Linked DNA regions of Homo sapiens. The protein of the gene in region 7 purifies or fractionates together with the protein of the main gene of each other region. This does not show direct contact. Each region holds a gene or a part of one and is shown on either strand. Other genes may lie near its edges.

Evidence for each region.
Region 1: the proteins of ESRRB (region 7) and KDELR2 purify together in Homo sapiens (affinity purification with mass spectrometry, with the first as the bait; one large-scale study listed by BioGRID). This does not show direct contact.
Region 2: the proteins of ESRRB (region 7) and TNFAIP2 purify together in Homo sapiens (affinity purification with mass spectrometry, with the first as the bait; one large-scale study listed by BioGRID). This does not show direct contact.
Region 3: the proteins of ESRRB (region 7) and DHCR7 purify together in Homo sapiens (affinity purification with mass spectrometry, with the first as the bait; one large-scale study listed by BioGRID). This does not show direct contact.
Region 4: the proteins of ESRRB (region 7) and ACSL3 purify together in Homo sapiens (affinity purification with mass spectrometry, with the first as the bait; one large-scale study listed by BioGRID). This does not show direct contact.
Region 5: the proteins of ESRRB (region 7) and UBASH3B purify together in Homo sapiens (affinity purification with mass spectrometry, with the first as the bait; one large-scale study listed by BioGRID). This does not show direct contact.
Region 6: the proteins of ESRRB (region 7) and HACD3 purify together in Homo sapiens (affinity purification with mass spectrometry, with the first as the bait; one large-scale study listed by BioGRID). This does not show direct contact.

What each region holds. Positions count from the first base shown.
Region 1 is NC_000007.14:6,463,871-6,467,152, forward strand, and holds part of KDELR2 (ER lumen protein-retaining receptor 2), read right to left. Parts: intron 2,454-3,282; coding exon 2,201-2,453; intron 1-2,200. UniProt on the Homo sapiens protein: Membrane receptor that binds the K-D-E-L sequence motif in the C-terminal part of endoplasmic reticulum resident proteins and maintains their localization in that compartment by participating to their vesicle-mediated recycling back from the Golgi.
Region 2 is NC_000014.9:103,133,461-103,135,699, reverse strand, and holds part of TNFAIP2 (tumor necrosis factor alpha-induced protein 2), read right to left. Parts: coding exon 2,183-2,239; intron 2,019-2,182; coding exon 1,897-2,018; intron 482-1,896; coding exon 340-481; 3' UTR 1-339. UniProt on the Homo sapiens protein: May play a role as a mediator of inflammation and angiogenesis.
Region 3 is NC_000011.10:71,433,911-71,436,152, reverse strand, and holds the end of DHCR7 (7-dehydrocholesterol reductase), read left to right. Parts: intron 1-179; coding exon of another isoform or gene 180-313; coding exon 314-778; 3' UTR 779-962; coding exon of another isoform or gene 963-1,043; 3' UTR 1,044-1,742; downstream 1,743-2,242. UniProt on the Homo sapiens protein: Oxidoreductase that catalyzes the last step of the cholesterol synthesis pathway, which transforms cholesta-5,7-dien-3beta-ol (7-dehydrocholesterol,7-DHC) into cholesterol by reducing the C7-C8 double bond of its sterol core.
Region 4 is NC_000002.12:222,920,036-222,923,535, forward strand, and holds part of ACSL3 (fatty acid CoA ligase Acsl3), read left to right. Parts: intron 1-1,244; coding exon 1,245-1,395; intron 1,396-2,672; coding exon 2,673-2,796; intron 2,797-3,042; coding exon 3,043-3,114; intron 3,115-3,500. UniProt on the Homo sapiens protein: Acyl-CoA synthetases (ACSL) activates long-chain fatty acids for both synthesis of cellular lipids, and degradation via beta-oxidation.
Region 5 is NC_000011.10:122,781,222-122,784,721, reverse strand, and holds part of UBASH3B (ubiquitin-associated and SH3 domain-containing protein B), read right to left. Parts: intron 1,670-3,500; coding exon 1,500-1,669; intron 1-1,499. UniProt on the Homo sapiens protein: Interferes with CBL-mediated down-regulation and degradation of receptor-type tyrosine kinases. Promotes accumulation of activated target receptors, such as T-cell receptors and EGFR, on the cell surface.
Region 6 is NC_000015.10:65,575,463-65,578,849, forward strand, and holds the end of HACD3 (very-long-chain (3R)-3-hydroxyacyl-CoA dehydratase 3), read left to right. Parts: intron 1-840; coding exon 841-917; 3' UTR 918-2,887; downstream 2,888-3,387. UniProt on the Homo sapiens protein: Catalyzes the third of the four reactions of the long-chain fatty acids elongation cycle. This endoplasmic reticulum-bound enzymatic process, allows the addition of two carbons to the chain of long- and very long-chain fatty acids/VLCFAs per cycle.
Region 7 is NC_000014.9:76,477,137-76,480,636, reverse strand, and holds part of ESRRB (steroid hormone receptor ERR2), read right to left. Parts: intron 1-3,500.

The DNA.
Region 1 (3,282 bases), on a different chromosome or scaffold from region 7:
GCCAACATGGTGAAACACCATCTCTAATAAAAATACAAAAATTAGGCTGGGCACAGTGGCTCATGCTTGTAATCCCAGCACTTGGGGAGGCTGAGGCAGGAGGATCACCTGAGGTCGGGAGTTCGAGACCAGCCTGACCAACATAGAGAAACTCCATCTCTACTAAAAATACAAAAATTAGCTGGGCGTGGTGGTGCATGCCTGTAATCCCAGCTACTCAGGAGGCTGAGGCAGGAGAATCGCTTGAACACAGGAGGTGGAGGTTGCGGTGAGCCAAGATTGTACCATTGCACTCCAGCCTGGGCAACAAGAGCAAAACTCTGTCTCAAAAAAAAAAAAAAAAAAAAAAAAAAAAAAAAAAAAAAAAAAGCTAGGCGTGGTGGCTCACGCCTGTAATCCCAATACTTTGGGAGGCTGAGGTGTGCGGATCACGAGGTTGGGAGTTCAAGACCAGCCTGGCCAACAAGGTGAAACCCCGTCTCTATTAAAAATACAAAAATTAGCCGGGCGTGGTGGTGCGCACCTGTAATCCCAGTTACTAGGGTGGTCAAGGCACGAGAATCACTTGAAGCTGCAAGGTGGAGGTTGCAGTGAGCCGAGATTGCGCCACTGCACTCCAGCCTGTGTGACAGAGCAAGACTCAGTCTCAAAACAAAACAAAACAAAACAAAATTAGCCAGGCATGGTAGTGCGCGACTGTAATCTCAGCTACTCGGGAGGCTGAGACAGCAGACTCGCTTGAACTTGGGAGGCAGAGGTTGCAGTGAGCTGAGAGCAAGCCACTGCATTCTAGCCTGGGTGAGAGAGACTCGGTCTCAAAAAAAACAAAAGGAAAGAGATAAGACATATATGCTCTTTTTTTTCTTTTTTTTTTTTTTTTTTGAGACAGAGTTTTGCTCTTGTTCCCTAGGCTGGAGTGCAATGGCGTGATATCAGCTCACTGCAACCTCTGCCTCCCGGGTTCAAGAGATTTTCCTGCCTCAGCCCCCCAAGTAGCTGGGATTACAGGCCATGTGCCACCACACCCGGCTAATTTTGTATTTTTAGTAGAGATGGGGTTTCGCCATGTTGGTCAGGCTAGTCTTGAACTCCTGACCTCAGACGATCCACCCATCTCGGCCTCCCAAAGTGCTGAGATTATAGGCGTGAGCCATCGCACCCGACCTATATATGCTTTTTACCTAGCAATTCCACCATTAGGAATTTTATTGTATAGCTGGATTTTTAGCCTGGGATCTGTGGTTGGGTTTCAGGGGCTCCTGAACCCCTCAAAACTATATACATGCATTTGGGTGCATTTGCGTAAATATCTTTTTTTTTTTTTTTTTTGAGAGAGAGAGTCTCGCACTGTCACCCAGGCTGGAGTGCAGTGGCGCGATCTGGGCTCACTGCAAGCTCCGCCTCCCAGGTTCACACCATTCTCCTGCCTCAGCCTCCCGAGTAACTGGGACTACAGGCGCCCACCACCACGCCTGGCTAAGTTTTTTGTATTTTTAGTAGAGACGGGGTTTCACGTGTTAGCCAGGATGGTCTCGATCTCCTGACCTCATGATCCGCCCGCCTCGGCCTCCCAAAGTGCTCGATTACAGGCGTGAGCCACTGCACCTGGCATAAATGTTTTTTTTTTTCTGAACAAGGATGATAGCTTTCATCAAATATTTGTAAAGTTCACACGTCCTATGTTCATACAAATGCAAAAACACATATACACAAGGATGCTGATTTAATGACTGGATTTTAACAGCAAACCAGTAACGGCCTGACCACCCATGAATGGGGGCTGGGTAAATAAATTATGGTACATGCACATAATGAAACACTCTGTGGCTACTGAAAATTATGTAGATTTCTAGTGACATGAAAAATGTGAGGGGATAAAAGCAGTGTATAGAACAGCAATGTACAGTTTAAGTCATGTGTCTGTGTATGCATAGAGAGGTATCTGGTGTTAATGTTCACTGAAACACCAGATGAATCTTTTACAGTGAAAATGTGTCACTTTAGGAAAAGCTATTGCAAAAGAAAAAGGGTTCTTATATTTAAAAAGACAACATCCTGATCCAGAATGTTATTGGCCAATCATGAAAGTGTTTCTCTGGAGCCAGTTTATGAGAGAGTGCCAGATTAGAAGAGTGCTGGGCAAGGGCACTCCTAAAAGAACACGTCACTCTAGAAACAACGCAGGTCGCACCCAACATACCTTTTGTAATGTACAAGTAGAAGAAGTCACAGTATAGGATGGTCTGGACTACGCCGGCCACCACAGCAATGAGGTCAAAGAAGCCCTCAAAGTAGAAGCGCCAGATCCAGTTGACAAGATACAAAGCACGATAGAGGCCCAGGAAGAACAGGTAGTGGGTGGTGATGGTCTCGGCCTCCCCAGTCTTGCTGATCATAAATAGCTGCGGAAGGATAGCCACGGACTCCAGGTAGATGGAGAAGGTCCAGAGGATCTGGAAGAGAAATGGCAAGCTTCCATCACGACCCACTGCCCACCAGGAGCTCAGAGGAAACACTCTTGCTTTCTTTACCACAAAGCAGCCTAAGATGAGTGGGGAGTGGGGCATGTCGGCCCAAAATAGAACAACAGCTTGGCAACTGCATAACCCAGTGGTCCCAGCCTTTTTGACACCAGTGATCGGTTTCATAGAAGACAATTTTTCCACAGACCAGCAGGGTGGATGGATGGTTTCGGGATGATTCAAGCACATTGCAATCATTGTGCACTTTACTTCTGTTATTACTATAATATACAATGAAATAATTATACAACTCGTCATAATGCAGAATCAGTAGGAGCCCTGAGCTTGTTTTCCTGCAACTAGATGGTCCTATCTGGGGGTGATGGGAGACAGTGACAGATCATCAGGCATTAGATTTTCATAAGGAGCATGCAACCTAGATCCCTCAGATGCACAGTTCACAATAGGGCTCATGCTCCTATGAGAATTGAATGCTGCCAGTTATCTGACAGGAGGTGGAGCTTGGGCAGTAATGTGAGTGATGGGGAGCAGCTATAAATACAATGAAGCTTCACTTGCTCACCCACGGCTCATCTCCTCCTGGGTGGCCTGGTTCCTAACAGGCTATGAACCAGTACCAGTCAGTGGCCCAGGGGTTGAGGACTCCTGGCATAAATCACAGAAACTTAAGCAACCTTTAAGAGGCAAGGCACTGCCAGTGTGACAAGCTGGGTAACCTGGACACCTCTACCTCTTTGAATTTTCATCACCTTGTCTCTCCAGGTTTATTCTTCCCTCTTCAATTTTCTATGAATCTACA
Region 2 (2,239 bases), about 27 Mb from region 7:
TGGACAGAGGTGTCCGGGGATCCCTGAGCCTGGCTGCACTCTCCCTCCTGGTTCTTTCCTTGCGTGCACACGATCAGCTATCGTTTACAAAGAGTCCTTGGTGTTGCCTGGTTGGCTGCCCAGGATGGGAGCTCCTGCCCCCATCGGACATGTAAACAAACCAAGGTCTGTCCAGTTCCAGCTGACAGGGCCTGCACCTCCGCCAGGGCTAGGCAGAAGTAGCATCAGAGCACAGGAGACCCGGGAGGAACCGAGAACCAGCGCTGCTCTTAACAGCTCCCAGCGGGGTGTGCCCAAGGCTTGCTGGGCACTCACAGGCAGGTCAGGCCACAGGAAAAGCTAACCAACCTTTATAAGGGAAAATAGGGGCCGGGAGGGCTCCTGCGCCCCCATGCTGACGTCCAAGATGCTCCGGATGCGCTTGACCTCACTGTTGGATAGGTTCCCCTTGATGGCCAGGATAGCGCTCAGGTGGCCTTTGCTGGCAAAGAGAGCATCCTGTCAGCCCAGCCTGTCACCCACACCCCTACTCACCAGCTCCCTGCACTCCCGGCCAGTGCCACAGGGCCCGACAGCCAACGCCCGGCCCACGAGGGGGCTGCACTTCACTCTCCCTCACCCATGCCCTCCACCTGATGGTCCCAAGAGCAGCCATGCCCCAGCCTGCTTCAGGCCTCCGCACCGGCTGTTCCCCTGCAATGTTCTTCCCAGGCCCTGAGATGACCGCCTCTTCCCACCCCTTAGGTCTCCGCTAAGATGTCCACCCCCAAAAGGCTTTCTTGTCTCTAAAGTCGGCACCTCCTATCATTCACAACCTTGGTTAAACCCTATTTACAACTTGTAATTGTCTGTTTCTTTGCCTGATTATGTCATTAGTATTGCTGGCCCTCAACAGAATGAGCTACTTAAGGGAGGACTGAGACCTGGCTTCCCTTGTACTTCATTGCATCCTGGTAACTAGAACAGAGGCTGACACCTAGCAGACTTCTCCATAATTGTTGGTGGCATAGGTAGATGGATGGTGGGTGGGTGAGCAGATGGATGAGAGCTAGATGGGTGGAGGGATGGGAGCATGGATGAGTGAGTAGATGCATGGGTGGATGGGTGGGTGGGTGAGTGGTTGAGTGGATGGATAGCTAAATGGGTGGAGGGGTGGATGGATGAGTAGATGGGTGGATGGGTGCTTACATGGGTAGGTGGATGAATAGATGGATGGATAGACGGGTGGGTGGGTGGGTGGGTGGATGGGTAGACAGGTGATGAGTGGGTGAGAAGATAGACGGATAGCCAGATGGGTGAAGGAATGGGTGGATGAGCAGATGGGTGCTTGTATGGTGGGTGAATGAATGAATGGGTGGAATGGATCAGACAGGGACTGGACTTGGCGAAGCTGGGGTCAACCCTGTCAAGACCCATTCAAACTTACCCTAACATGTCAGAGGACCCAGCCCAGGAAGAAACAATGTCCCTGGCCCACCAGAACTTCAGGCAGCCAAGGGCTAAGCCTCCACTCCCGAATATGAGCCCTGGTCCCAGAGCATAGGCCTAGGCCGCAGAGGCCCCCCAGGCTGGGTGAAGCTGGCCTCTCTGGTCTCAGTCTCCCCTGTGAGAGGCAGTGTCAGGTAAAGCTAAGAGTGTGGGCCATGCAGCCAGACACTAACTAGCCGTGTCACCTTGGACACATCCTGTGAGCTCTCCAGGCCTCCTCTGTGAAACGGGAATGGGAAGTATTGTCCTCGTAGTGCTGTGGTGAAGGCCACAAGAATGAGCCCCTGGTGAGGTTCACACAGTGACTGGCACGTGGGCAGCTGCCAGGATCTGGGTTCCCAATGCCAGCCCTGTGAGGCCTTGGCCACAGTGATGTGACAGTGGTCCTGAGGTGCCCCAGGTTCTCACCTGAAGTCAGGGTAGCAGGTGGCATAAGTGGCCACCTCAATCTTGATGGCACTGGGGTCCTGCAGGCGAATGATCTCGGCCAGCGTAGGGAGAGCAGGCTGCAGCCAGGTCGCCGGGGAGCCCTGCAGGAGTGGGTGTGGTTGGAGGGACCCAGGGGTCCAGAGGCTCGGGTCAGCGACTCGTTGGGCTTAGAGAGGCACCAGCGGCCTATCTCCGACCCTGAAAGGGCTAGGGGAGAAGAGGCAGCCATTTCAGAGGGGCTTGGGAGAGGTGGGCAGCGGCTTACGTGCTGGGTGCAGAAGTGCTGGATGGTGTCAGCATTGGCCAGGATGTACCCAGCCAG
Region 3 (2,242 bases), on a different chromosome or scaffold from region 7:
ACAATATTAAATTCAGATTATATTTTTAATACTGTTACATATTTGATGTTTATGCTATATGTCATATATATAGGGGGTATATATACACACACACATACACACACAGACAGGTAGAAGGCAGGTAGAGTTACTCATTTAATGACCACAACAGCCCTCAAGGTTGGTGCTTTTATTCACAGAAGAGAACACGGAGGCAAGGCGTGTGTCAGAGGCAGAGCTGGGGTTTGACCCCAGGCCGCTGGGCCCCCGAGCCCACACTCCTGTCCTCTCCCTGGGCAAAGCACCGCTTGACCCCTTCCCCCTCGCCCCCCAGGGTCTGTACTTGGTGTACCACCCCGTGCAGCTGTCCACCCCGCACGCCGTGGGCGTCCTGCTGCTGGGCCTGGTGGGCTACTACATCTTCCGGGTGGCCAACCACCAGAAGGACCTGTTCCGCCGCACGGATGGGCGCTGCCTCATCTGGGGCAGGAAGCCCAAGGTCATCGAGTGCTCCTACACATCCGCCGATGGGCAGAGGCACCACAGCAAGCTGCTGGTGTCGGGCTTCTGGGGCGTGGCCCGCCACTTCAACTACGTCGGCGACCTGATGGGCAGCCTGGCCTACTGCCTGGCCTGTGGCGGCGGCCACCTGCTGCCCTACTTCTACATCATCTACATGGCCATCCTGCTGACCCACCGCTGCCTCCGGGACGAGCACCGCTGCGCCAGCAAGTACGGCCGGGACTGGGAGCGCTACACCGCCGCAGTGCCTTACCGCCTGCTGCCTGGAATCTTCTAAGGGCACGCCCTAGGGAGAAGCCCTGTGGGGCTGTCAAGAGCGTGTTCTGCCAGGTCCATGGGGGCTGGCATCCCAGCTCCAACTCGAGGAGCCTCAGTTTCCTCATCTGTAAACTGGAGAGAGCCCAGCACTTGGCAGGTGTCCAGTACCTAATCACGCTCTGTTCCTTGCTTTTGCCTTCAAGGGAATTCCGAGTGTCCAGCACTGCCGTATTGCCAGCACAGACGGATTTTCTCTAATCAGTGTCCCTGGGGCAGGAGGATGACCCAGTCACCTTTACTAGTCCTTTGGAGACAATTTACCTGTATTAGGAGCCCAGGCCACGCTACACTCTGCCCACACTGGTGAGCAGGAGGTCTTCCCACGCCCTGTCATTAGGCTGCATTTACTCTTGCTAAATAAAAGTGGGAGTGGGGCGTGCGCGTTATCCATGTATTGCCTTTCAGCTCTAGATCCCCCTCCCCTGCCTGCTCTGCAGTCGTGGGTGGGGCCCGTGCGCCGTTTCTCCTTGGTAGCGTGCACGGTGTTGAACTGGGACACTGGGGAGAAAGGGGCTTTCATGTCGTTTCCTTCCTGCTCCTGCTGCACAGCTGCCAGGAGTGCTCTGCCTGGAGTCTGCAGACCTCAGAGAGGTCCCAGCACCGGCTGTGGCCTTTCAGGTGTAGGCAGGTGGGCTCTGCTTCCCGATTCCCTGTGAGCGCCCACCCTCTCGAAAGAATTTTCTGCTTGCCCTATGACTGTGCAGACTCTGGCTCGAGCAACCCGGGGAACTTCACCCTCAGGGGCCTCCCACACCTTCTCCAGCGAGGAGGTCTCAGTCCCAGCCTCGGGAGGGCACCTCCTTTTCTGTGCTTTCTTCCCTGAGGCATTCTTCCTCATCCCTAGGGTGTTGTGTAGAACTCTTTTTAAACTCTATGCTCCGAGTAGAGTTCATCTTTATATTAAACTTCCCCTGTTCAAATAAGTGGCTGTGTGGTTTCTGACTGGTGAATGGGCCTGACTCGTGAATGGGCCTGACTGCAGGTCTGACTGGTATACGTGGGCTCTGTTTCTGGTATGAGAAGGGATGTCTGAGAGAGATGCTTGGGTCTCGGCGTCAAAGCATTGGGTGCCCGTGGGTGCGTGGCGCCACCCTGCCCCTCTCCCTCCCATGTCAGCCCTTTGCTGGGGCTGTTTTTGGGTTGAATGTGGAGAGTATTCCATTCCCCCCCAAGGAGATGAAACCAGGCTTGGCCACCTGCCCCCGGCAAGTGAATGGAGAAGCCAGAAAGAGTGCCAGGTTTGTCTTGCACCTGGAGAAACAAGAGTTTCACACAGGCAGCCCAGTGCCCATGCCAGGGCAGGGGGCCAAGCTCAGAGTGGCTTCATTGCTTCACATGAGAACTGGTCCCACAGCCAGGCCGCCTCCCAGACAGCCTGGAGGGTATCGGAACTGTGACCCGCCCAGGCTGACTGCTGAGCCCT
Region 4 (3,500 bases), on a different chromosome or scaffold from region 7:
CTAGTAGTATGTGGTTCCTGGAAGCCAAGGGAAAGGAGATCTTGGTGAGTCATCAGCAGGATCAGGGGCTGCATGCAGAGGTCAGATGACACAAGGATTGTAATTTCCAAGAAGTGGTGGTGTTGGAGAAGGGTGCTGTGCATTGAAGGAGTGAAGGGCTGATTTGGAAGTAAAGACTTCCAAGTGTAAACATTATTTAAGAAATGTATCTTGACTGACAGGAGAGGAAGGGTATTCTATTGGGAGTACATTTAAATAATTTTTTCACACTCATTTAGAAGTTCACATGTAGAGTAGTTCTGGGAGTGGTTCAGACATATCAGCAATGCCAACCATGACCTATTTCTCTTTGTTCTTCTGCTGTGCCACCTCTATAGCTTCTCAGCTGTTGTCCTTAGGCTGGTACTCTTCTGATTTCAAATGGTTCACATCGTGTTTTAATGCAGGACTCTGAGTGTAACCAAGTTAGTCACCATTCTGAAGCAGTGAATAGTTTTTAGCAAACACCTAGATACTCTAGTCCAAAGCTACCTTTATTTCTTAGTTGAATTACTGGGATAATCTTGTCTCCCTGATACCTTTTTTCCCCTTGTAAAGTTAGTTAGCCACACAGCAGCCAAAGTGATCTTTTTTTTCACAGATAATAACATACTCCTGTTCAAAACAACATTGCTTTACATCCAGAACGTAATCCAGAGTTCTTCCCGTGGCCTTTGAGGTCCTATGTGTGGTCCCTGATAGCCACTTGACTATTGTTTCTTGCCACTCTTCCTCTTGCTCACTCTGTTCCAGCCACACTCCTTGCTGGTCTTTAGATATGCTGAGCACATTCCTACCTTTGGGTCTTTGCATTTGCTTATTTCCTTCTAATTAGAACACTCTTCTCCCAGTTCCAGGGTTTCCATGGCTCCCTTCCTCACTTTATTCAGGCCTTTGCTAAACGAAACTCTACAGAGACGGTCTCCAGGCTTTTCCATCCAAATAGCATCTATTGTCATCTTCTCACCTTGTCTTGCTTCAGTTTTCTTCATAGGTTAATCTGTTTGTATATCTCAATAGAATATATCTCCCATACGTGCAGGGACTTGATCTGTTTTGTTGATCTCAGTATAACTAATATTTGTTGAATTGAGTTAAATTAACTCAATTTGATTGAGTTATTTATTTGATGATAATGAAAAGAAATTGTTGATACAGCTGAATCTCATGAAAGTGTATGTGTGTGTTTTTTCTCTTCAATGCAGAAAACCAACCTCATAGCAAACCATTGCCCTCAGATATTGCAGTAATCATGTACACAAGTGGATCCACAGGACTTCCAAAGGGAGTCATGATCTCACATAGTAACATTATTGCTGGTATAACTGGGATGGCAGAAAGGATTCCAGAACTAGGGTATGTCATAGTAAAGTAACATTGAGTAGTTAAGTATTTATGTCTGTTATAATGTTAGCATTTGTGTCATTTTATTAATATATGGCTAAATTAGTCCCTCAGAGTCTGTTTGTAGTAGGCATTTCCTTAAAAAATAAAAAAGGACATTAAAATTAATGGCAAAATAGTTATAGTTGTGAGGTTGAAAATATATCATATAGATATATTTTAAAAAGTACAGAACTTAAATTTGTATAGTTGTAAATCCTTTGTTTTAATCAGCTTGTATTTGCTGCTGTAGTTTTTTTTATATCTAAATACAATTCAGGTGAACAGGTAACTTAATTTATCCACTAAGTATTTGTTGAGCTTCAGTATTTGGTCTCTGATTTTTCTTGTTAATACAAACTCCAGTGGTAGCAGTGGAAGGTAGAGTGGAGTGGGGAAGAGACTGATGGAGGAAACCAGATGGAAGTTTGAGGGACTGTCAAGGAAACATTGCCAGAGATGCAATTGGTATTCTGATGACCGATAGGGTACAGTGGTTGGATATTTTTGATGCTTTTATGCACAGAAATTACAAACATACACGCACACACACACTCACGTAATTGCTATGGTACTGAACTTGGGGATGGAGGAATGTCTCTTACGTATGCATACATTTCAGAAAAAATTAAGTGCAACAATTTTCTTACAGGTTTGCCTCAGTTACCTTCTATATTTTGGTTATGGGGGCAGCTCTTGAAGTATATACAAATACTTACACATTTTCTGTATATTAAGATCTAATTTATTATGTAATCCAATTCCCACAACAAGAGTCTTATCTGTAAAATTTCTGGCAGATAGTTGTGGATTCTACTTTAACTCTTCTGGTTGGCAACCCACTAGATGTAAAGACCATTTCCTCCTTGGATGATTTCTTCTGTTCTTCAAAAGAACCCTGTATTATTATTTGTTTAAGCCACTGTTTCTTGTGCCTCAGTACTTTGCTTCAGCAACGCTTATAATTCCTGAGTGCTTTTAAGTAGGACGGGAAACAGCATTCCTTCCTGCAAGTGTGCGCCTCCTTGCTTTTGGGTTGAGCTGTAATTCTTTTTCCCTCCCATCCCCAGCATCTGCCTATCCTCTGTTTTCACCTGTCTCTCTCTCTCTCTCACAAACACATACACACTTGACCAGCAAATTGATGCCCTGGGGCCCTTCCATGTGCCTTCAAGCTTGCTCCCATTATAGGGCACTTTTGGCATAGACGACACCTGACTTTTGTTTCTGACGTCTCCCTTTTCTTTTAGAGAGGAAGATGTCTACATTGGATATTTGCCTCTGGCCCATGTTCTAGAATTAAGTGCTGAGCTTGTCTGTCTTTCTCACGGATGCCGCATTGGTTACTCTTCACCACAGACTTTAGCAGATCAGGTAAGTTCAGTGTCTGTGACTTGAAATACTAAAAAATCATAGTGAATTGTAATGCATTTTTTTCAGTCAGTATGACAGTATATTGCGAGAGCGATGGTTCATTTTAAAATGAGCTTTAGCCTTTTAAGTGCTTCTTAGACTGTAAGTACATTAAAATAATTTATAATAGGCTTTTTGATCTAAGAATACCATTGAATTTTAAAAATAAGGATCACTTTATATGGATCACTTTTTCTTATTTTGTAGTCTTCAAAAATTAAAAAAGGAAGCAAAGGGGATACATCCATGTTGAAACCAACACTGATGGCAGCAGTTCCGGTAAGAAGTGACCCTTATTTAATATTGAGTATTAAAGAAGTATCACCCGCTACAAAGCATTAGTGCTAGTGAAAAATATATTGTTGACAAGGTAGTTTATGTAGGATTTATTCCTTATTGATTATAAATATTGCCTTAGGCGCTATGGGATTTCTTCAGTCTTGTTTTAGCTTGCTTTCTTATTTACTAAGCACTCAACTTAATTTCAGCTTCTGTGTGTAATTATCAACTTGTTTGCCTAAATACCTTCTTGTTAAAATAAAAATTATTTTCATGATATCTGTTGGTGAATTCATTGACACTTGAAGCCTATTGAGAGCTAGGAGGGAAAGTGTGAGATCACCTCCTTTTAAGCAAGCTGTATAGTTACCTCCTGAGTCCTCAGG
Region 5 (3,500 bases), on a different chromosome or scaffold from region 7:
CCAAAACAATGAGCTTGCCTGCTCCCAGCCCTGGGGTTCTAACTGTTTTTCATGTTTTGTTTTTTAAAGAAGTCTAAAAGAGATGTTAAAAGGCTATGTAAACTAACAAAAATACCAGTTCTTTGGCTGTTTGAAAAATTGGGAAACAAATATAAGTATTGCTTAATAAATGTAGTTAAGTTGGAAGGCACATTTTTAACAAACGATGAGGTCTTTTGTGGGTGGGTAGAGATACAGTCTCACTATGCTGCCCAGGCTGGTTTGGAACTCCTGGTCTCAAGCAATACTCCTGCCTCAGCCTCCCAAAGTGCTGGGATCATAGGTGACAGCCACCATGCCTGGCTATGATGTAGTTTTGTTTCAGACAGGTTGCCCTTCTTTATTGGTCAAAATACATGGGCTCTTGCTTCATCTCTAGCCCTAAATTACTAAGACACTAATGTTTTTTGTGTCTCAGCTTCTCCTTCAGGATAGAAAAAGACACTATTGGCCAGGTGCTGCGGCTCACGCTTGTAATCCCAGCACTTTGAGACACCGAGGCGTGCAGATCACCTGAGATCAAGACCAGTCTGGCCAACACAGTGAAACCCCGGCACTACTAAAAATACAAAAAATTAGCCCAGTGTGGTGGCGGGTGCCTGTAATCCCAGCTACTAGGGAGGCTGAGGCAGGAGAATCGCTTGAACCCCAGGGGCAGGGGTTGCAGTGAGCCAAGATCGTGCCATTGCACTCCAGCCTGGGCAACAAGGAATGAAACTCCATTTAAAAAAAAAAAAAAAAGGCAATATTATGCTTCCAAGATGTCACATACTTGTCTAGAAGGCAATGTTGATTCCCTCAAAGGAAGGGTGCTAGGGGTGTACCAATCTTTCTTCTTGTGATGGAATTCAGTTTTCTCACTCAGGCCTCCCACTGGGATGTGCAGAAACTCTCACAAGAGGTGACTTGAGTTTTCTTTTCATGTGTGTCTGTTCTCAAAGCTCCTTGAGGACAGGACAACATTTAAAAATTCCAGTATGCTCCATGGTACTTTGCATGATACAGATACACAGCAAATATCTGTTGATTATGTCTTTGCAAGTGTTTTTGTTTTTTGTTTTGTTTTCTTTGGTATTTATATGTTCTTCAACTCACCTAAGGTCAAAATGATGTCTTCCATTAACACCATAAATTTATATAATATTAAAAATTTTCCAATATATTTTTTATTTATTCTCTCCCATTTCATTTCTTTTTTGCTGGAGTTGGATTGGCAGGGGAGACAGAACTAGGGGGATGTTACCCAGATGAACCACTTGTGACCCAGAGAGGAGGGAGGCAAGCTGGAAGCCTCCCAGTGAGGCAAGCAGAGGCTGGACACAATCCTGAGCCAACGGACTCTCTGTTAGGTGCTTGCTCCATTTTTCCCCTGTAGGTACCCATCTCCCTGCAGCAGCGAGCTGCTGATTCTGATTGCATCCCTGCACCTGGTAGCTTCTGGAACCACAGTGAGACATTACCTCATGGTTAGCAAATCGGATATCCCGAGAAAATATGGTAGCCACCCAGTCACACCCTAGCTTGACGTCAATGTTCTGGGCCAGTTTCTCTAGGGTGGGTAGGTGGCTGGCTTGGAAGTGGTAAGCCAGGGTCACATGTAGCTGCTTCTTATGAGGTTCCACATGCACTTCTGGAAAAAGGAAGAAAAAGGTCAGTAATTAAAAGGTGGTGATGATAGCAATGGTGAAGACTTAAGGAAAGGCATAGAAAGGTACCCTGAGAAATTCTGCTTCCCACATAACAAAGAAGACAAAAGACGTTTCTCTCCTTCACAGCAGTAGAATAAGGGGGTAAGGGGATGGCAAGAGATTCCGAATCAAGCCACTGTTCAAGAGATAGCCACCATACGGCTTTCCTCTAGGAGCTGCGGGTCAGCTGAGGGCAGTCCTTTTAGTTAAGTCCTTCTCACAACATTCCAGTTGGTGGTCACCAGCCCCACCTTTCAGAAGAGGGCACTATGACCTACAGTGATGAAATAATTTGTGTAGAAATACAAAGCATGTTTTATAGCTGCGTGACTCCCAAAGCTCTATTCCCTTCATTTTGGAATCACGTGTCTTAGCTTCTGGGTGAGATTGATGGAGAAATGAGGGGAAAAGATGGATATTTTCAAAGTTTAATGCAGGGTTTCTCTCAACAGCATTTTGGGTTGAATAATTATTTTTTGGGGGGGGTGGCTGTCCTGTGCATGATGGGGTGTTTCGCAGCATCCCTGGCCTCTACCCACAAGACGTCAGCAGCACTCTCCAAGCTGTAACAATTGAAAATGACCTCAGACATTGCCAAATGTACCCTGGGAGACAAAATCACCCTTAGTTGAGACATACTGGTTTAAAGTATACAGACTGTTATTCTAAGATATCCCAAGAGACAAAACAAAACAACCCTACCTATAGGAGGGAATGGCTTTTTTTTCTCTCTCTGGTACTTTTTTTTTTTTTTGAGACAGGGTCTTTCTCTGTTGCCCAGGCTAGAGTTAAGTGGCATGATCATAGCTCACCACAGCCTCCACCTCCTGGGCTCAAGTGATGCTCCCACCTCAGCTTCCTGAGTAGCTGGGACTACAGGTGTGAACCACCATGCCTGGCCTCTTTTGTATTTACAATGAGGGAGAATCATCTACTGTACAAACTAGAATAATGAAGAAGTTGCAACTAGAAGAAATTAGGGAATTTGAGAATTTAAGGAACTTGGTCAAGTCACACAGAGAATTAGTGGCCCAAGATAGAACTAGAAATTGAGCATTTCGGTTTTAAGTACTTTTTCTTTTATACTGCATTGCCTTTCTTTGGTGTAAGCCCCATGAAACAAGGTTTTTGTCTCTCGCTTACACTGTATCCTTACTCAGCATATCATGCAGGTTTTCAGTACTTGTTAAATGAATAAATGCACATGAATGAATCTCCCTTGACCACTTCAAATGGAGGAAGACACTAAATCTACTTGATGATATCTGGTCCTGCCAACAACTGGAGAATACCAAGTTCCAGGGCAAAGACATGGTGGCCGGCTTCCCATGCTGGGTAATAAGGAGCGGGACCAGCTAAGCTGCGCAGGGTCATCCAGTTCTCCACATCCCCACCAGGGGGCCACACAACAGCAGAGAAACGAAGCCGGCCAAGTTCTTCATGACAGCAGGATCTTGGAGAGGAATTGGCTCCACCCGCGTCCCACAGGGAAAGCTGGGGCTTCGACTGCTGCTCACTCAGTATGCACTCCAAGAATCTGTGCGGCCCTGGCTGAGGCTTGCTTTTCTCATTTGTGAAGGATTTGGGTTTTGCGGCTTTGACATTAGTTTTGGTCCTTGTGGGGATTTAGTGGTTCTGACAATAACTACTGTGGGATGAGAGAAAGCCATTTCCTTGAGATTGAGGGATAAGAGCAGGAAATAATTTGCCTCTCAGTTATGCTCTTTCTCTGAAATATTAAGCTCCTATGAAATGTCAGGCTTCACTGAAGTC
Region 6 (3,387 bases), on a different chromosome or scaffold from region 7:
CGGTCGTGAGCCACCACGCCTGGCCATGTTCTTGAGTAGGCTTGAATTAAAAATTAGGTTGTTTCTGCACTTTAGATTTGTGCATTTCATTGTAAATTTTACTGTAAAAGAAAGAAAGAATATTGAACTATACCTACCTGAAGAATTAGGGGGGTGAGGTGTATTGATATCTGCAACTTAACACTGAAGTGCATAAAAAATGAGATGGCTGGAGGGATAGATGAATAGGGATGTGATATAGCCAATATAGTAAAAAGCAGTAAATCTAGATGTTCCCTGTATAATGATTTAATCTTTTGCGTGTTTGAAAATTTTATAAGAGAAAAAAATGTTTTAAACTCACTGGGAGGCTGGGTGTGGTGGCTTACGCCTGTAATCCCAGTACTTTGGGAGGCCAAGCTGGGCAGATCATTTGAGGTCAGGAGTTTGAGACTAGCCTGACCAACATGGTGAAACCCCACCTCTACTAAAAATACAAAAAATTAGCCAGGCATGGTGGTGGACGCCTGTAATCCCAGCTACTCAGGAGGCTGAGGCAGGAGGATTGCTTGAACCCAGGAGGCGGAGGTTGCAGTGAGCTGAGATTGTGCCACTGCACTCCAGCCTGGGTGACAGAATGAGACCCTGTCGCAATAAATAAATAAATAAACCCACTGGGGAAAAATTGCTTTGTGTCTATTGTATTGTTAATTTGTTCTAAATTGTACTCCTTCCTGAGCCGCTGCAATAAGCTTTTTGCTGTGGAATATGACGACAGCTAGATACTGTCCCTGCCACAAGAGCTTCTGGTTATAAATAGACAAAGACTCTAATTTCTAATTGACCTCTTTTCTTTTTCAGGTTTATACATAAATTTTCGTCACCTTTATAAACAGCGCAGACGGCGCTATGGACAAAAAAAGAAAAAGATCCACTAAAAAGAAAGATTTAGATGGCTTCTTGCCAGTTTGAGCCTAATCTGATTCTTACAGTTTTACCTTCTTGAACCAATGTAAAAGTTTTTTTAATGTTAAATGATTAAATTCTCAGTGAGGCTATCTTCCTTTTCCCCAGTAACATTCCTGAATTTACTGTTATCTTATTGTAGTACTTGCATGACATGGATTCCTGATATCTGATGAGAGGTTCATTCTTGTGTATTCAGTTAATGACACCAAAAGGCTCAGCCCACCCCAACCCTATCTCATGTTCAGTCTGTCTAATACATGCCAGAGATTTTTTTTTCAAAAAGTGCTTTATCCCTACAATGTACTGACAGTTCTTACAGTTGAGATTTGTTCTTTTCAGCTATTGCTTGTGAAAAAAAGCAAGACTATGTCACTCTATAGAAGGCTGTTAAAGTGACTCAGGCAGGAATTAATTATTCTGTACCTAAGGGGTTACTTGTTTAATGGGATGGCATTGACTTTTTGAAAATCAAGTGGACTGAGTCATTGATAAAACATTTCTAAGAGTGGGGCTAGAGAACATACTTTACATCTGACATCCTTTGGCCTAACAACATCTATTATTATAGTGCTCAGCAGTGTGGGCATTGAAGAGGCGCAGAATGCTTTGAAAGAAACTAATCAGAATCTTGGAACATCATGATCATGCCATTCTTAAGTAAATCAACTATTTTCAACACTGAAGAAAAATGAAACATTATTTAGAAAACAATGAGATTACAAGTTCCAAACTCAGCCAGGAATGTGGCTCACACCTGTAATCCCAGCACTTTGGGACACCTAGGTGGGAGCATCGCTTGAAGCCAGGAGTTCAAGACCAGCTTGGGCAACGTAGTGAGACCCCTATCTCTACAAAAAATAAAAAAATTAGCTGGGTGTGATGGCACACACCTGTTGTCCCAGCTACTCAAGAAGCTGAGATGGGAGGATCCTGAGCTCAGGAGGTCAAGGCTGCAGTGAGCCGAGATTGTGCCACTGCACTGCAGCTGGGGTGACAGTGCAAGACCCTGTCTCAAACCAAACCAAACCACACACACACAAACACACATACACACACACACACACGAGGTCCAAATGGTAGCAGGGATCCAAAGGGAACACAGTATGTAGGTCAAACTGGCAGTAACAGTGTACAGCCTTTGACAAACTAGAAATATTAGAGTAGGCCAAACACACCTCCAAACTGTAAGGCTGTGCACAAACATAAAAAATGGCAGCCTTCCATCTCCTGCACTGGCTGAGTCCATTTACTTGTGTACTTGTTCTAGTGAGTGGTGGGACTGTACATTTTTGAATAGACCTCAAAAATACTTCATTCTGCTGCTGTTCAGTTGGCTTTTTAAACCTGTCTGCAGTAGGACACTGAAAACAGCAAGAACTTCGGGGTGAACACCCGCTGATCCTTTAACAAGGATTTCTGGCAGGAAACTCACAAAAAGGAGAACTGAAAATTTAGACATACAGTTGGCCATTGTAAAAAACATCAGTTTCCTCTCATACATTCCAAGTAAACCAAGTAAAATAAGTGTTGGAGTAACACTTGCATAAAAGAATTTAAGGAGTGATAGCTCTTTCTGTTCTGCCATTCCCAACATTCCTGGGGGAAAGGAGACTCAATGAGTTAATACTATTTCACTGAGCCCAAGATGGAAACTTGGTTTGACCTAAAACATCTGATTAATATAGGCTAGCTGATTTCTTAAAAATTCGTTGCATTGAAGGATATTTTGCATGTCTGTAACACCTGTCAATACTTGTTTGTATTGATTTCTGATATTCTTGCAGCTGACTACGTGTAATTGGGCAGATCAGCTTTGCAGTAGATTATGCTGCATCCTCGTGGCAAAATTCTGTATTCTTAGTGATTGTTACAAACCCCTTTATTGCTGTCTGAGAAAGTGAAAGATTGTGTATTTCTATTAAAACATTTACAATCAAAATTCTAATGACTGTGCTTAAAGATAATTTAGTCTAATGGTTCTCTGTTAGTGATAAAGACCTTTGTTCAGGCAAAATATTATGTAGCAGTTCAGCATGTTAAACCAAAAACAGTTGCTCTGGTTGAAGCCTGAGAGTTACATGGAAGGTGGTGCAAATGAAAAACACTGATGATGCAGACAAAGCCTTGAGAAGTTGCCCAAAGTCATAAAGCTAGCTGATAAATTGGAACCATAATTAACTTTGGAATCGGATCGGTGATCTGTCAGGATTACCTAGCCAGAACCTTGCTTAGGCAATGAGGCCTAATCAGTGTCAGAAATAAGGAAACCTCATGATTTATGAATCTATGCCACTTAGAAAGTTGAAATTATATTAAAGTGATAAGACAGACCAAAAGCAAACGACCTTTAGTTTCATAGTGAAACCATTTTCTAGAAAATCAAATATTTTATTTTCATTAAAAAAAAACCTTGAATAATAGGAATCATTTTACACATTA
Region 7 (3,500 bases):
GAACAGGCAAGGGGAAGTCAGAACAATGGTTACTTAATGGAATGATGATTTAGAGCCCATTCATGCCTGGGGCTATTTTCTGGCTGTTTCTTTGTTAGGATGTTCAGCTACTAAATTTCAGTCCCTGAGAAGAAGGAAGTTTCCTAGAGCAACTGAAAGCAAAATTACTTTGTTTACTGAATGAGTGGAGAAAACTCCTTTAAGTGCACATTGCCCTAAAGGAACTTTGGGATGCTAAGGACACTACCCCCCACCCCTCTGCTGCCCCAGGTGTTTTCAGTTCAGGACTCCAGCCCTGGAGGGCAAGGATGCTGTGAGTTCACTGAGTGAGCCCACAACTCCTCATTTTTGTCAGCAATGTCTTTTTCAACCCCACAACCTGGTGTATTTGTACCTGGTGCTAAACGTTTTTTAGTCGGGGAGAGGGGGAGTCTACTCAGCAGCCCACCCAGGCTTCCTGTTTAAAGGTAATTCCCCTGGTCAGGTGCGGTGGCTCACCCCTGTAATCCCAGCACTTTGGGAGGCCGTAGCCCTTGAGGTCAGGAGTTCAAGATCAGCCTAGCTACCATGGCGAAACCCCATCTCTACCAAAAATACAAAAATTAGCCAGGTGTGGTGGCACGTGCCTGTAATTCCAGCTACTCGGGTGGCTGAGGCACAAGGATCGCTTGAACCCAGGAGGTGGAGGTTGCAGTGAGCTGAGATTGCACCACTGCACTCCAGCCTGAGTAACAGAGTGAGACTCCATCTCAAAAGAAAATTTAAAAAATGTAATTCCCCTATTGGGAATACGGAAACTGTTGGAAGTCTGTGTCCCACCCCTCAATGGATATCTGAGAAGTACATGTTCTCCTTCTCTCTGCTCTCTGGAGGTCAAGGCATGGACCCGTGACACAGGCTCAGCCAAGTGCACCATCAAACGGAGGCACAAGGACAGAGCGAAGGTGAGGACTGATCAGACCAGCAGCGCCTCCCCAGCAGAGTGTAGGCAGCCCCTGGCCAGTATGTCCTGGCTACTGGGTTTCCTGCTCCTGGGCTCTCCAGGGATTCTCCTGGTTCTTGTCTGGTTTCTAAATGTACTCTTTGAACCTCCTGATAGGCTTCCAATAAACTCCCCTTCTGCCTAGAAGGTCAGGTTTTGTAACTGACATTTGTTGTTGACTTCTCCAGGAGCAGAATCTGAGACAAGGCTGTGCATGCGAGCAGTTTCCAAGGAGGGAAGAAAGCCAATAACAAATGTGTTCCTGAGGACAGTACTGCTGTGGGCAACTGAGGCTCCCAGCTACCGGCTGCTTTGGCGCTTCTTGCCTGCCTCCCAGGTCCAGGCTGAGCAGACTCTGGTGGCCAAAGAAAGCCTAGGCGTCAGATCAGCACACACACACACACGCACGCATGCACACGTACACACACACACACACAAACAGACAGTGCTGAGTAGGTGTGGGCAGGAGCAGTCTCCGCTGTCTTCCTCCTCAAGTGTGGTCTGCAGGCCAGCATCATCACCATCATTTGAGGCTTGTTAGATGCCTCAAAATCTCAGGCCTGGCCACAGAGGAATCAGACAAGGTGATTTGCACGGACAACAGAGTTTGAGGAGCACTGCACTAAGGCATCCTAGCAAACGCAGCTGTACCATCAACTTCTGCCTGTACCTTGGACCCTAAAGGGACAGCTAGATGCCATCCAGCTCCAGACCTGAACCTATGTGCTGCTAGCACTTTGGCTCACATTTGCTCCCTCACCCCCTGCAAGCCCCTTCAGTGACAGCATAAGGAGCAGACACAAACACAGGAAGGATGATTCTTCCTGTAAAAGTCTTTTGGGAAAAGTTCCCTGTCTAGAAAAGCTTTCTGACTCTATCCTGTGACATGTCTACATAGAAGCCTCCTCTGTTCACTATACCCAGGCCAAACCAAACCCTCCACCAAGTTCTGCTTCCCCTTGGAATGGTGACAGGACCGAAAGTGAAAACGGTCCACCTCATCCATAAGAGACAGTAAGGGCCCCCACTTACTGAGCACCTACTATATGCCAGGATCTTAAACATATACTCTCCTTGAGTCCAGGACAAGCCCCTTCCCCACTTTACTGACCTTCTCTCCTAGATACCACTGGAATGAACTCTCGCTTCCCATCCAGCCTGCTTCCCGGCAAGCAGCTGTCAATCAGAGTGAGGCATGCTCAACACAAAATAAAAAGAGGTGTCTGTCCCTCGGCAAGGCAAGGAGATGGGCAGCTGCCACCTCTGCCGATGTCTCCATCTGGGATGTTCTGTGTCCTGATATAGGGCCTGACCTTTCATGGATGTTCAGGAAAGACTTGATGAATACAGGGGTGGATGTACCTCTGTCCTCCTCATCCCCATGCCAGGCTGGGGGCTTCTTCATGGGCTCCCAGAGCACACTGGGCTTCCCCTACTGACTAGGCACCCGTTAAGGCCAGGGGCGGCTCACAGTCCTGCCCCAAAGTCTGTCATGGTACCCAAGATGCAGCATGTGCTTAGAAAATGGGATTATTATGGTTATTATCATCATCCTTATTATTACTGTTCCCCAGCATTGCATCCAAGTTTTTGGTAAATCACATGAATAATGATAATGATAACAGCATAATTTGTAAAGGACTCTCTGTATGTATTACCCTACTTAACCCACAAAAATATAAGGCAGGTGCTATTATCCTCATTTTACAAATAAGAAAAACTGAGGCTCAGAGAGATTCAGTGATTTCCCCAATAAAAGACCCAAGCTTTTTGCCATTCCATGGTATGACCTCCCAGCGCACAGCAAATGTTAAATTCTCCTCTAAATTTTCTCCTCCTGATCTTTACAGCATAGTGGTCAATGGCTCCAATCAATACGTGTATCAATTATCAGATTACGCTGTTAAAAAAACAGTAGCCTGTTGGGTTTAATTATGCACAAACTGACACCTGATGTGAAATGTGTCTGTTCCCCTTGCTTCCTGTCTGCTCTTCTGAGCCTGCCCTAAGCACAGCCCACAATCACTGCAGCCCATGGGCTCGATAATGAAGGTCCCATGCCCATCTCTGTCCCTTACGGGTTATTTCAGGTTATTTGGCCTTGGACAAGTGGGCTTCAGCTGCATCTTCAGGTCTGGGGAAGGAGGCGATGGTAAAACCAACTCTGCTCAAGGTAGATGGCTTTTGTGACAATTGTATGACTTAATGATGAGAAAATGCTTGGTAAGCTGGAAAGCAGTTCCAGTAGGCTGGGTGAGGCCATCTCTTCTACCACCCTCCTGCCAACCCATAGCACTTCAACATTCATCTGATACCTCACAGGCCACCTCATGCTGGTTTCCCTTTATACCCATCAGCTCTTCGATTCGATGGGTTCTTAGAGGACAGGACCCTGGCTTGCTCTATTTCTCCCCTGCTCTGGCACTGCCTCACACTCAGGACTTGCTAGGGCCATTTAGAGTGGGAGGGTCCTGTGACACAGACCTGTGCACCCCTAGCCTGGGGTTGGGGAAGATGG